Linked DNA regions of Homo sapiens: region 1 is linked to region 2. Evidence: fine-mapped expression QTL. A gene starts in region 2. The other region holds a variant in brackets. All regions are shown on one strand. Distances are from middle to middle. Region 1 overlaps ANXA3 (annexin A3). Region 2 holds the start of ANXA3 (annexin A3).

Region 1 (4,396 bases), 38 kb before region 2:
CCACTTACTGACTCAAATAAGTTTTCTTTGTTGTTACATCATTATGTATGCTTTTATGATCTTGGTTAAACATTATATTGCTTGGTGGCAATGAAAATGTAAAATGAACAAACCATTTCATAAGGAAAATTGTGAACTCATTGTCTCAGTTTGGTTATTTTTAAACTCCCTAAAAATTGTTATTGAGCATGCAGCTTACTGGGGAGTTAAAAAATAAAAAATAAAACCTTACATCTGCCAAAGTCAACAGAGCTTTCCGGAAGTCACCAGATGTTTCGGAACTAATGTCATCTCCAAGACTCTTCTTGTATACTGAAACCAAATCAGAATGAAATTAAGCCTTGACAAACTGAAAAATATGATTATAAAACAGAGAAAAGTTTAAATGCCAACACTAGCAAAGAATGGGTATGTGATAAGATAAATCTTGCCCTTTTATTTAATTTCTTCATGCTTTTCTGTTGTGAGATGGTACATTCTTCTTGTAACTCTTACTGCACTGTGTTGTGGTAGATGCAAAAGAATAGAAAGAGTTGTCATTCTGGAGCAAATCTTGGTTTATTTCATCTGACAATGGCACTAAGGGATGCATAGTGGAAAAGCTGGGGTGGATGAGCTACTAGTGTGCCTTTCAATTTCCATTCTGGCCATCTTCCATACTAAGAGAACCCTAACCTTAAGCAAGATATAATGTACACAGCTTAAAAACTACTTTCTCAGCTTTCCTCTTAGCTAGTACAGTTCTATAACTTAGTTATTCACAATGAAATGAAGGCAGACAAATCTCCTTAAAGGGATGAGGCCATGTTCATCTTAGTCCTTCCTCCATCCAACTGCCTTACATGTGAACTGATATCTGCATCTTGGGCAGCCATCTTGGACTGTGAAGATAAGGACCACTTCTTAGTGATGGCATAAAAGTAATCAAGAAGAAGTCTGAGTTCCTAAAAGCTTTGAGTAGCTGTCATACTAGACTTAGAATTGCCAATGTCTAGACTTCTACATATGATAGAAATAAACTTCTACCTTTTGTAAGCCACTGTAATTTTTCTGTTTTATCGAATCTAACCCTAATCTTAATGAATATAATTAAACCATATTTTTTCGTATCTCCCAAAAGTAAGAAAGCTACCCAAAACATGCCATTTCCCTTTACAAATGCCAACTGTGTGTTCATATATTTTAGTACTGACTAGTTGTAGCCCCTTTTGCATGGCCTGTGATGTGCAGTGCCCATCAGTCTTAAATCTCTGTCTGCCCCATCCATGGGGTGGTGATTCTCTTGGAGCCACTATACCCTTTGTTGTAGGTGACACCATGTGGCTATCTGAACTGTCTGCACCATTCTCAAGAATTCTATAAATTAGCCATACTAGCCATGAGAATTCTCATCTATTTAAATCAATGAAAGACAATTATAGAAAGTGATATGAGATTATCCAATAGCAAGAACTGCGCTGAGATGGAAACTTCTTCAGCATGATTTTAGTAAGTCTCTTTTTTATGAAATCTGTAACTTTTCAAAGCAATTCATATAAGCAAAATCCACCAAAAAAGTGTGTTATTTTTCTAAATAATAATATTTAGTAGGCATCATTAAACCTAATGGTTGTGATATTGTTACATCTATCCTTCATTCTAGTTAGATAAAAAACTTTAAATTTGAAAATATCAAGTAGAAGAATGAATATCCCATTTCTTAGAACTTGGGGAAGTATTTTGTAATTTTGGAATTATTTAGATGAGACTTTATAAGTCATTTCACACAGCCTCTCCCTTTCCTTCAAATATTTTGTGGGATATTAGAGTAAAAAATTATTTCAACCTAAGTTGACAACTACTTTATCCATTTTGAGGCACAGTAGAGTATAAAATCAAATAGAATATTTTAATAGTACAGGTGCCTGGACTAGAACTTTGAGTCCCTGATCCCTGTTTCAGTGTTCTCTCTCTCACACACCATTGACTTTAGAATACCGAAAAAAGTTAAGAATTTAGATCTCTCTTTATTTAGACTCTATTGTGCCACTGTACTG[A/G]ATAAGCTGTAGAAGACATCTGGTCCCTTTATGAGGGCCAACATGATAGTGACTTCCTGAACCCATTGTATCTTCTCTCTTAGGGAGCGAGTGACACAGAAAAGGAGACAAAGACAATAGAATAACAAAGAACCAAAAGACTCCTGGAAATAATGAAGAAAACAGTAGCCAAGAATAACCAAAAGCTATGCACAAATATTTATAAGCCTTGGGTAGACAAACACCATGTGGTAGGGGAGGGGATGTTACTTGCTGGTGTCAAGAACATTAGAAGCAAAAAGGAAGAGGAGCAGTTACTGTCACGGAAAACATTAGCATGGGGAGCAATGGATGCCTGCTGCCGAGAGAGTGACAACATAACTGGGTCCCTCGGGTAGTGCTGTGACTTTAATCTCTGTAAAGTTTGGCTATGCATGATTGAGACAATTTCCTTCTTGATCTTCTTGTGTATCATTAATCTCTAGTAACCAAGGTAACCTTGATGCAGTTGTATCCTTTGTAGCCTCAGAGAGCATTACTCACATAGAAATTGAGGCTCTGGTAACTTTGTGCTATTATCATCTGTCATATCTGCACAACACTATCCTGAATGGTAAAAGTTTCACTTGGCTCTTAAGACCTTAACCTCAATTTTGAGGACACTCATTTAATAAATATTTGCACTTATCTGCCCCACTGTTCTTAGAACTGAGGATACAGCAGTGAACAACATAGACGAAAATCCTCATCCTCATAAAGCTCACATCCTGGAACTGTTTGTACCTAAATGCTGGGCTCCAGGGATCTGTCACAGGGCAGGTCCACTTGGGGAGCAGTGGCTCTTCTAAGAAACACCAGAAAATACCAAGCCAACTTGGGAAACAGTGCCTGGTTCTGATGGGTTTTGTAAAATATGTAAACCTTGTTGAACTGAAATATTTTAAACACCTAAAACATACTCTTTTGTGCATTAATGATTAAGCAATTCTCTTGTCTACTTCTGTCTGTACCCGCTCCCTATTAGGTTCCACCAGTACTGGGGAGTAGAGGGGACTGGAAGGCAGGAGGTGGAAAGAAGTGCAAGCTATCTGACGGCTAGTCATGTCAGTGTCAACCCAGGGAAGGCTGTTCACCCCGACAGCAGCAACTGGCTCCAGCTTCCTAGAAAAAGTCACTTTGACCCCCGTGTAGGTACTGGCTCCAGTACCTACAGATGGAGCCCTCTTTTCAGAGATCTGAACTCCTGCTCCTTAAGCCTCTGCTCTGAGCCCCTGAGGTCCCGACATCAGCCAGGTATGTCCCTCATTCTAGCTTCCAGTTTCTGATAGCCTCAACCTCTTTCCTTTGTTGTCTCAGGTCTGGGGGGTTATAACCTGCATGAATCCTTTTGTTCCCTTTTTGCTTTTTCAGTCCTCTGAAAGGTGTTTAGCAATTCTTCTTTTTTTTCCAAGACAAGGTCTCACTCTGTCACGCAGGCTGGAGTGCAGTGGCATGATCAAGGCTTACTGTGGCCTCAATCTCTTAGACTCAAGTGATCCTCCCACTTGAGCCTCCTGAGGAGCTGGGACTGTAGGCGTGCACCACCACACCTGGCCAATTTTTGGTATTTTTTATAGAGACGGGGTTTTGTCATGTTGCCTGGGCTGGTCTTAAACTCCTTGGCTCACGCAATCTGCCCACCTCAGCCTCCCAAAATGCCAGGATTACAGGCATGAGCCACTGTGCCCAGCTTAAGCAATTCTTTTGAGATGGAATCTCATTCTGTTGCCCAGGCTGGAGTGCAGTGGCACCATCTCGGCTCACTGTAACCTCTGCCTCCTGGGTTCAAGCAATTCTCCTGCCTCAGCCTCCTGAGTAGCTGGGACTACAGGTGCACGCCACCATGACCATCTAACTTTTTTTGTATTTTTTAGTAGAGATGGGATTTCACCATATTGGCCAGGCTGGTCTCGAACTCCTGACCTTGTGATCCGCTGACCTCAGCCTCCCCAAGTGCTGTGATTACAGGCGTGAGTCACCGCACCCGGCCCTTTAAGCAGTTCTTTATATTACATTCTATCTGTCAAAATACCTAGTGCTGTTTCTGTTTTTCTGATTAGAACCCAATTGGTACATCAATAACAAAACAGTCACCTGACATTGAGGTATTTACCTTCTAACAAGAATCTCCCAAAGCATCCTCTTTAACACCTACATGAGGACCAATATGTACTCCTTCTTTGGACCTCTCCCACTGCAAAAGCTGCTATGACACAACTGACCTCTGTGAGACACAAACAGAGAAACTGTGGCTCCCTTAAAGTACTTGGAGAGGGTTCTATGGGGCCATTGAATAGTAGAGAATTGGGCTGGTCTTATTCCTGATTCCTGGGAGGTAAACT
Region 2 (4,396 bases):
TTTGAGGAGGTGGTCCAGTCCTTGGTGGGGTGCAGAGGTGAAAGGCACAGTTCTTTGATTGGGAAGCCAGACACATTTTTCTTAAATAGATATTATTCAAACATGCTGGCATATCTCCAGGGTTGATTTAGAAATGCAAGTTGCTCCCACCCTTCCTGGGAACAAAATATTCTAAAAATTCCCTGACACCCCCAGAGAAAAGTTCAATGGGAAATTACACTATTAGTCTCTGGAAATATTTCACCTTGGTTTTTTCAGGCTCTCTGTAGCCTAGGGCAGTCAACTCTCCAGTTAGAGTCTAATACTGCATCTCTCTAAATACATGCTCTTTGACTTATGAGGGGTTACAGCCAGATAAACTATTCTGAAGTCTAAAAATCAGAAGTCAAACCATCTGTACAGTGAAAACAAGGCATTATTGGTTCTCATTTTGCCTCTTAAAGCTAAACACAATTTCTTTGGGCCTCAATTTCCTCATCTGTAAAAAGTGAAGAAGGGGGTGTTGCCAGCATTGAACGAGGTCAGTTTCACAGGGCTGGAGATTCTTCTTATCTGTGTGCACTGGTGCACGGTAGATATTTAAAAAAAAAACTTATTGATTAAATGAATGATTTAATACAAGCCGCACAATCATCCAGTGAGTTAGGTATTACATCTTCGTTTTGCATATGAAGAAGCTGGAGCCCAGAGAGGTATGGTAATGTCCCACAGTCACACAGCTAGTGAGTGGACCCCTACTGCATCTAGGCAGCTAGACTCTAAAGGTATGAACCTAACCCCCATGCTTCTGCCTTAATCTGCTGCCTGGCCCACACCTGACCAAATCTGACACTTAATATGCATTGATCCAGCAGAACTGGAAAATTATTAAGAATTATTACTAATCTATCATTTAACTTTTAAGATGTAAAGAATTACTCCACAGCGAAGGCCAAATGACTTAAACAGAATTTCAATATATCCTTTCCTGAAAGGGATTACATCATTTCCTTTTACTTCCTCCTCTACGGTTATTTCTAAACAGGTTTCTCTACACAACCACAGAGTTCTGGGAACAAGATTCTGGTTTTCTTTACATTTAAAAATTCCCTTTCTGGTCAGTCTGAAGTTTTCCGTCTTCGTGAAAACCAAAGGTGGTATCTTCATGGAGTAACGTTTTAATTAGTTACATTTTAAAAAATGATGTTGGTGAACATAGTAAATGTATCTTTCCCGGAGGGCAGGGTCTTGCTGTCAGTGCTGAACACAAATCCTTGGAAAGAATTCGGCCTGGGCTATGCAATTTCGTATCAGTAGCCAGAGGGGCCTCCAGCGACCCAGAACCTCCCAGCACCTGCATACTTTCCTATATATGGTCATCTGCAATCAAGTATCCAAATCTTCCACCTGGTGACTCAAATACCAAGGGAATGATTCATATCTAGTCAATAGGATTCTGTTGCAAAGAAAACGGTTAGTCTTTTCAGGAAAAAGCAAACTTCTTGAACTTCCAACCCTCAATATGCAAATCCACTGTTTTCTACCTTCTAAAAAAAATAAGTAAAATAAAATAAATTGCCTATGTGAGGGGGAGAAGATGCTCACAGGATGGGTGCGATTCCAAGTCCACAGAGCAGACCTCTGAGCCAGCCCCGTCTGCCATGCCGGGGACCCGAGGAACCTTCCGACTCCCAGCTTTTTTCTGTCCCCTAGACCTTTAGGACTGGGGAGGCCGAGATGGCTAAGTGGATCCCTTACGCTGCTAGCTGTAATAAGCGAAGCTTTCAGGGAGCGAGGACAGCTGAGTATCAGCTTGGGCCCCACCAAGACCTGGGTGACCCACCCATGGCACGGCACTTTCCCCCCCGTGGGCCCAGTCTCCTCGACTCTGAAATGCAGGACTGAGGTCCCTCCAGCTCCCCACCCACGCAGCTGGGTTGGGGCCGGGCGCGGGCGCCAGCCGCCAGCCCTGCCCAGGGTCGAGCTGCACTCGCGGGGGAACTGGGCGAGGCGCCGCGACCTCCCCAAGCCACCCGTCAGCAGGCGGCTGTGGGCGAGGCTCGCGGGGACGCGCCGGGAGGCTGAACTTACCCAAAGCGCGGTGGGGGAAACTGGTGTGCGAGTAAACTGCGAACAAACTGCGAGCGAAGGTGTCAGCCGCGGGCGCAGGTGCTCCGCGCTGGCTCCGGGTCCGGATCGCGACCGCACCCCTTCCTCCTGCCCCTCCTCCGGCCTCTCGACTCCACCTGATTGCGGCCCCAGGCCCCGGGAAAGGGAAGCCGCGCCCTGCTGCCGCCGGGCTCTATCCCTGTACACAGGCGCCCCAGCTCTGCTCCCTCACCGGTCTCTAAGCTTCCCCACCCTTTTCTCCCTACGCCCTCATTTCGCTCTCGGTTTCCACTACACCTTTACTTTCTCAAATGTACTGCAATGCTTATTTTGTTCTAGGCAGTGTGGATTCGGAGATTAGACTGTCCCTATACCTAAGGAACTCACTGCGTGGCATAGGTGGCGGACACCTAACATTAATAACATTGATCTGGCATTTACTTTGTACCAGGCACTGTTCTAACTTCTTTAAGAATATGCGCGGATTTATTAGGTTGGTGCAAAAGTAATTGCGGTTTTTGCCATTAAAATGGCTCCGACAACAACTCTATGAGGTAGATACTATTATCCCCATTTTATAGATGAGGAAATTGAGATACAGAGACGTTGGGTAACTTCAGCCAATTTACACAGAAGGTAAATGCCAGAGCTAGTGTTTGGAACCCAACTATTTCAGTAATTCCTCTACTAAACGTGTTGACCCTCTGGTATGAGGATTCCAACCAAAGGCTCAGGGAGACGGTAACCTGGAAGGGCATTCTAGGCATTTGGAAGAGCAAAACAAATCATCGAGGCTAAAAGGTTAAAGCCCTACTCGTATGAGGGAATTATGAGCAGTTGTGTGCTGAAGGATGTAGAAAAAGTTACCATGTATTGAGTATCAGGCATTGAAGTGCTTGAATACCTTACCTCTTTTATCTTCAAGGGAACTCTAGGAGGTGCTATTTTTATCACAATTTGCAGAAGAGAAAACTGAGGCTTAGAAAAGTGAAGTGATTTATCCGAGACCACGTAAGTAAAAAGTATTGCTTGCACTCAGTCATCACTGGGCCCCTTATGTATTCACCCGAAGGATTTGAAAACTTACCTCCACAAACACCTGCACATGGATGTTTATAGTAGCTTTACTCCTAAGTATCAAAAGTCGGAAGCAACCAAGATGTAATTCGTAGGTGAATGGATAAATAAACTGTGATACATCTATACAATAGAATTTTATTCAGCACTGAAAAGAAATTAGCTATCAAGCTATAAAAACACATGGAAGAAACTTAAATGCATATTATTAAGAGAAAGAAGCCCATTTGAAAATGCTACACACTATGATTCCAACTATATGACATTCCAGAAAAGGCAACACTACGGAGACAGTAAAAAAAATCACTGGTTTCTAGGAGTTGAGAGGAGGTAGGGTGAACAGGTGGAGCACAGAGGATTTTTAGAGGATAAGCATGGCTGGAGCTGCTTGAGTGTGAGTTGAAGAGATTACAGTCTTGGTCCTTAAGGCTGAGTCCTGGGACCTAGAAACTCATTAGAAATGCAAATTCCCTGAAACCCTGCGCCATCAAGTGATTCTGATGCATCCTAAAGTTTGAGAACCACTGGTTTAAGAGGAGCTACAACGGAGAAGGCAGAAGTGGTCATGCTTAAAAGGCCAGTGCCCTGGGAGCCCTCTCAGATCTACAAATCCGAAGTGATGGGCTTTCTGCAAGAGAGAAGATAGGATGGTGTTCTGCATTCTGTTCTGCATAGTAATTCCTGACTCCCATTCAGACTTCACCACAATAAACTGTTAAATCCCATGTTACCTCAAAAAATTCTGAGATTAGCATGAAATGGGGGAAAATATTTATTATTATTTGTGCCAGACACTGGGTAATGCACTTGACGTACGTGATCTATGTCATGCTTACCAACTAGCTGTAAATTAGGTATGATTGCCTCTATTTTGCAGATACAGACACAGGCTCAGAGGGACTCAGTAAGTTCTACGAGTTGTATTCCAGGCAACTAGGAAGTCATAGGGCTAGATTTATAGCCAGAAGAAAATGAGTAACAGGTGATGTTTTACATGTAGGCTTTATTTTAATTGTTTAAACCATTCAGGATTTAACTTCTTTGATTTCCTGATGGTAACTTTAACAAATGCACTTTTATCATTTTTTGAGTTTTTCTAGTTGTATCAACAGCCCAATTACCACCATTTATATTAGAAACATGCTATGGCATATTATAAAACTATTTTTTCCCCAAAGGATGAGTTTTCTTGGAAGGAAATATTAGAGGATGCTGTTAGAATCCAGGTTTA

What was found. PIP is the estimated chance that this variant, and not a neighbour inherited with it, causes the effect. A credible set is the group of variants that fine-mapping cannot tell apart.
Region 1: its variant is the best candidate, but not a certain one, in a credible set for the expression of ANXA3 in pituitary (GTEx, PIP 0.66).

What each region holds. Positions count from the first base shown.
Region 1 is chr4:78,587,460-78,591,855 of GRCh38, reverse strand. ANXA3 (annexin A3) reads right to left here. Exons shown (of 13, transcript NM_005139.3): 7 at 233-312. Among named protein-coding and RNA genes, the nearest start is that of ANXA3, 38 kb to the right of the region's middle. The variant A/G (reference allele first, on the strand shown) is at 2,037.
Region 2 is chr4:78,549,534-78,553,929 of GRCh38, reverse strand. ANXA3 (annexin A3) reads right to left here and starts at 2,160. Exons shown (of 13, transcript NM_005139.3): 1 at 2,071-2,160. RefSeq lists enhancers at 541-1,740, 1,044-1,795.